2 separate regions of the Homo sapiens genome follow, and region 2 is linked to region 1. Evidence: fine-mapped expression QTL. Tissue or cell type: sun-exposed skin. Region 1 holds a variant in brackets; the other region holds the start of a gene. All regions are shown on one strand. Distances are between the middles of the regions. Region 1 overlaps LOC105375222 (a long non-coding RNA gene). Region 2 holds the start of ADCYAP1R1 (ADCYAP receptor type I).

Evidence for each region. PIP is the estimated chance that this variant, and not a neighbour inherited with it, causes the effect.
Region 2: ADCYAP1R1 starts here. The variant in region 1 is fine-mapped to the expression of ADCYAP1R1 in sun-exposed skin (GTEx, PIP 0.93).

What each region holds. Positions count from the first base shown.
Region 1 is chr7:31,016,346-31,019,245 of GRCh38, reverse strand. All of the region lies in intron 2 of LOC105375222 (a long non-coding RNA gene), which reads right to left. Among named protein-coding and RNA genes, the nearest start is that of ADCYAP1R1, 35 kb to the left of the region's middle. The variant T/C (reference allele first, on the strand shown) is at 1,294.
Region 2 is chr7:31,050,908-31,053,807 of GRCh38, reverse strand. It overlaps ADCYAP1R1 (ADCYAP receptor type I), which reads right to left and starts at 1,500. Exons shown (of 16, transcript NM_001118.5): 1 at 1,130-1,500.

The DNA of each region.
Region 1 (2,900 bases):
TACCCACCTGCCAGGCCCAGAGAGTGTGCAAAGCCAGTTCCAGCAAGACTTTGCCTCCCATTACCAGCCCTCTCTCCCACCTCCCTCCTGCCCTACCCACACCCAGGAGGGGTCAGAAACTGGCTTATAAACTGGAGGGCGGCTGGAAGAGAGAAGGCCAAGGAGAACAAAGAAACTGGCCATGTCCTCACCCCCTGCCCCTTCCACTGCAGGTTCCAGCCCTGAGTCTGGCATGGGGAAAAGAAGTGCCATTAAATCAATTTCAGAATTTTAATGAACATTTTGTCTGTGACACAGGAGTGAGCAGAAAAAACATGGGACCTACCTGAGTTTTCAGCTCATAAAGCAAGCAAGGATTTCTCCCATAATACAGTTTAAAGGGCCTGTGTGGTACAAAAATAAAATATCTTTTCAATAGACCCAAACTCTGCTTGTTCTGGTGCCTGTCCCAATAAATGTGGGCTAAAATTAACATCATTCCCACACCTTTGTGGTCTCGTCTCACCCTGATGGGACACATCGCTTGTCACGTACTCACAGGAGCACATGCATTCTTGGGTCATCCTTCTGTTTATCTGCCCTGGATACCTCCAGCTGCGGCTTACTACTAACCCATCCAGTGCCTTTGGCTAAGGAGGTCTCTGCCCCACTGGGCCCCAGTTTCCCTATCTGTAGCAGGATGAGACAAATAAGACCATTTCTAAGGGCTTGGTTTATCTTAACTGTTCAAGGTAACAGCAAGGTTTCCCTCATCCATGATCTTGAGAAGGCTTGGGCCTACGTGGGCAGAGGAAGCTGGAATGAGGACTATAGTAAGGAAAAAGGCACACATCAGGGAAGTCCACATAATCTGTATTTCTGGCTTCGTCTGAGCAGTTGGACAATCTGGCAGCATTGACCCAGCATGTGACAGCAGTCAGATGCAGCGTGTAGAACAGTCCCCTCATCCAGAACCAAAGCTCTCCCCTTAACCACACTCCTCACCAATCCCCATTGCTCCCCATCCCTAACGCCAGCTGGCATCTACCACTGGACCTGAGCTGTTGCTTTAGTAGAGATTGATTACTCTATCACTGTGTCACTATCAAAGGTAGAAAATTGAACTGGAGGATGAGAGGACATGTGTGTTTTACAAAAGATAGCAAAAGGGGACTATTTCCTTGGAAAGTACAACATGTCGACCCACCACTTGCCTGGTCCTGTGCTCTTATTGGATGTCCCAGCCTGAGGCTTCTAGCAATTGAGTCAGGGTTCTCAAGCCACTCAGAGACCACCTGGCCCTGCCCTACTTGC[T/C]GCTCCCTGCTGCCCCAACAGGACTGAAGGGTCTGCACAGGTCCCCAGCCTGCTGACATTCTCTGGGGGGCTCCCTCATCCCCTTTCTTCACCCATGCTAAGACAACCTTCTCTAGACCCAGAACCTCCTGTGGCAGCAGGGGAAGCCCATGCCTCCTCCCAAAAGGAAGAACGCCTGCATGGCAGACGCGGGAGCCTCCTGGAGCCAGGCTGGGCATGTGAGACGTGGGGCACTAAGGGGCCTTCCTGGGTGAGGGTCTTTCCTGGGACCCTCACTCTTTACCCCCCGCAGATTCCCCCTTGGAGAACCAGCCGAAACTGAAATTAATTCAGCCTCCTCAGGCCCTCTCCCTTCCTCCCTCTGCTGGAGTTCCCATGACAACCAGAGTTCACCTTTGATGCCAAAAACACTGCAAAAACAACAAAACTCCACCCTCCACTAAGAGGGAAGTGGGGCAAGGCCCTTCCCCTATATCCCCCCAAAAAAGCACAGTGCTGGAAATTTGGTAATCTGCAAGGAACCAGAAGCAGAGTGGGTGGGGCAATTCCAAAGGGACTTTTCCATTTTCCCTCCTGGGCTGCACTCCATTTTCTGCATGCTCACTGGTGGCTTACAGCTGACCCAGAGCTTCTTAATAGTGTCCATCTGATCTGGCGCTATTCAGGATGGTGAGCAGAGGACTGCGGGGGAGGGGGCAGTGCAAGGCTCAGAGGAGCAGCTGTAGCCCAGGTATGTAGGTTCAGAAGCTGCCCCGCTCTGCCTGGCCCAGGCTGTGTGACTTCAGACAAGGCGTCTCCCTTTCTGGTTCCCTAAATCCTCCCACTTCACTCCCTAGCCCCCTTCCTTCATTCACACCAAAGTATAAGTGACTGATAAGGCTTCAAGTGGCATGAGGAGCGGGCCTGTGACAGTGGCATTTAAGTCTTGAGGAGCCAGGCTGAACATCTGGGAGCATTTTCTACTTCTCTGAGATCGCACAAGATGAAGAAGGGAGTGAGTCTGACTCTCTGCCCAACCCCAGCCCCTGCCCACACCAGTCCCTTCAGGGGACAAACCACCAGCATGGGCCACTGCCTGAATGCTCACCATGTGAGCTGAAGGACAGTCATCACCAACATCTTGCCCTCCATCCCATTCCCCTAGGGTGGGACAGCTTCTGAAAAGCAGTGGTTGGGCAGCAGGAGCGGGGAGGAGTGTTGGGGGAGGAACAGCGGGACTGAGGTGATGGGAAAGGGCAGATAGTGAGCCTTAGGGCCCATATTTGGACCTGTGAGTGGAGAGAAGTGGCGTCTAGGCCTAGCTCTGCCCTCAGCTCCCTCAGCACAGTGTCTCCTCCCTGGGCCTCAGCCTCCTGAACAAGGAGAGAATTGGATGAACAGTGGTGGAGAGCATGGCATGATGATGTCCCACCAGACTGCACCTCAGTGGGACTTCGCCTTCACATCGGACCCCAGGCTTCCAATTCAGGTTGTGGAATGAAGGAAGGAAGGGTGAGGAGGAAGGATAGGTGGTGGGCATGGAGGTCAGGAGCAGAGGCAGGTGGCGGGGGGGGGGGGGTGCTGAGCCCCAGCAGGTGGCCAAGGCCCAGCCAATGGGGGCAGGTCAA
Region 2 (2,900 bases), 35 kb before region 1:
CCCTTCCCATCCCCCAACTCCTCCCCAGGGCCGCTCATGGGAAGAGCCAAATGCTGTGTCTTGGAGAGGGCCAGGGGGGCTTTGCGGGACATTGTAAGGCTGGGGAAGATAAAGGGAGTCTGACGCACCTGCACTCAAAAACATAAAAATGGTCGGAAGAATTAGCAGGTGTCCACCACCCCACCCCCATCTTCCAAAAAGGGGCTGAGCTCCATCCAGGGGTGAGGCTCCCCTCCTCAGCTCCACGTGAAATGCAATCGGCTTCCGGCTGGGTTCCCTCCTGAGGGTCTAGTTGCATCCATCGGCTCCCCTGTCCCTTCTGAGCCCCCTAACCTGCCAAGGTCCCGCCGAGGATGTGGCCTCCGCCCCCCGCAGCCGCCGCAGGAGCTTCTGCCTCTAAAGCGGCAGGCAGGGGTCTCAGCGGGCCCACTTCAACCTGGGAAGGCCGGTGCGTTTCCCCACAGACCCCGCAGGGCGTTTCTTCTGGGGACCACTGAAGCCCTGGCATCCCCAACCCCAGCCCCTCCGCGCCACGGGAAACGAAGACGACACTCTTTTGAACAATCCCGGATGTGTCACCACAGAGGGGCATTCTACACTGGCCCCTACCCCAACCCCCACCTAGCACATTGCTTGCCCACCCCTCAAACCCCGTGCGGATTGCGGTACCTAGCCCCGGGGGACCCTCCAGCCCTGCCTTCCCGATCCGCGTAGGTGCGTCCGTCCACCTAAGGGTAGGGAGGCATGTCCCTCCGGGTCCCTCCGGCCGCATGGCTTGCCTGCCCCCCTGGTCTCCCTTCTCCGCATCAGGAGGGGCGTGAGATAGCTAGGTCGACCCCCACCCCGGCAGTCTGCGGCGATCGGCCGCCCCGAGCGCAGCGCCAGACACTTGGGTTGGGGGGTGTCAGCCTGACGCGCAGGAAGGGCGCAGCGGCGGGAGGGGGCTTCATTTCAGATCTGGGAGGCTTGCCTGGCGCCGGCCCTCGCCCGCTCTCCGTCGGTGGAGGTCGCGGCTGGCGGAGACCGCCAAGCCAGAGGAGGGGATCCGAGGTCCCGGCTGGGCGAAGGTTCTGGAGGGGGAGAAGACGGCCGAGGCGTGGAGGGGCAGCCGCGGCGGGGCGACCCTTACCTGCTCACTGCGGGGCCTGTCCGTGGGGCCGGGGCAGACTCCGCAAAGGACGCGCAGCCTGCAAGTCCGCGGCCCGCGCGGCGCGGGGATGGGGAGCGTGTGCGCCGAGGAGCGCGCGCCGAGCCGGGTCTCCGCGCCTGTGTGGCCGGCTGGCGGCCGGGGTCCGTGTGTCCCTGCGCGGCGGCGTGTGCGTGTGCGCACGCGGGGACCACGCTCGCCCGGAGCCGCCGCCGCCGCCGTCACTCCCTGCCCGGGGCCGAGCGCAGCGCCCCCTTTGCCCGCCCCGCGCGGCGCGGCAGTCCAGCTTGGCTCCGTCCTGCGGGAGAGGCGCCGCCTCCGCCGCGAAGCCAGGCTGGGCGCTGGAGGGAGGCGACCGACCACCGCCTCCCCCTGCTCACTTCACAGGCTGGGGAGGGGGTGCTGCAGGCCAATGAGCGCCCGGGGGCGGGGTTAGATCGAGGGCGGTGCGGTGGGGGGCGCGGTGGGGGGCGCCGGGCTGCTCAACCCGACCCCACCCGCAGCACAGACTGGAGCAGGAGCTGCGGCGGGAAATCCCAGCGGCGGGGGTCGGGGGCGCTGAGGTGGAGCCCTCAGCCCCCTGTCATCCCCGTCTCCTCTGACTCTGGGCCTCCTGGGCTCACCACCCTCTTTCCAGTCTCTCCATCATAGCCAGGACTAGAAAGCCTTCTTTCTTCTCCCTAGGTCCTCAAGATTTCCTGTGTATCAGAGCCTGTCTTCCCTCTCCTCCAAGAAGCCTTCCTTACCAGGCAAGTCTCAGACCCTCCTTGGGCTCTTCTTTGCCCCTACCGCCCAGGCCTGGGAGGGTCAGCTAGTTTTGGGGTGCCTGTCGGGATGTCCTCCAATGTGACCCCCCCGCCCCCGGAGAAAGACCAGGAAGGGGATGGTGGTGCTTACAGGACAGAGGCAACTTAAAATATCAGACTGCCTGGCTCCAGTCCCTGCTGTGCCACAGCTCTGTGAGCTTGGGTAAGTGGCTCAGCCTCTCTGAGCTTCAGCTTCTTCATCTGCACAAGGGAACAATAGTACCGGCCCCCAGGTCTCTTCACAGCAGCATTAAATAAAAATGGTACACTCACCCCATAGTAGTTTCTCCCTGGTATCATTGATTCGCCGATGCTGAATAAATTACTATTGCTACTGTTATTACAGTCCTGTCCAACCTCCTCCTAGTGCAAATGGCTTAATAAGGAGAACTACACAGGTAAAGGTGGCCTAGCGGGTTGGCAGCGAAGCCCAAACTTAACTGAGAGTAGTTAGTTACCCACTCCCAGGCAAGTTCTCACCCTCTGCCCACCCCACCCAGCCCCCATCCCACAGCTGCTCCTGCCTGCCTCTGCTCTCGGTTTTTGGTCCCTGCCTCAGGCGTCAGTCTCTGAGAGCTCTCAGTTCTGCAGCCAGGCTCTGTTCTTGCCCATTCAAGTAAATTCTCGCTCAGCTTCCCTTTGGGTCCAAGTTCTAGGTATGGCCACCTTGTCCAGGAGGCCTCAAGAAGGGGGAAGGAGGAGGGAGAGCCTTGAGCCTTCCTTTGGGGTCGCCAGTCTACCAAAGAGGAAAGGACCTGTGGATGGAGAGGAATCCATATGGAAACTTGAAAGAAGCAATCTGAGGGCCCAGAAAGACGCGTGGAGGTTCCTAGGTCCATGTTTCTCTTTACTGACCAATGACCGCTGACCCCCATTGACACAACACACTGGTAGTCTGATTGGTTCATGTTCCTTTCAGTCCAGGAGAGCTTCCTGGTGGAGGAGAA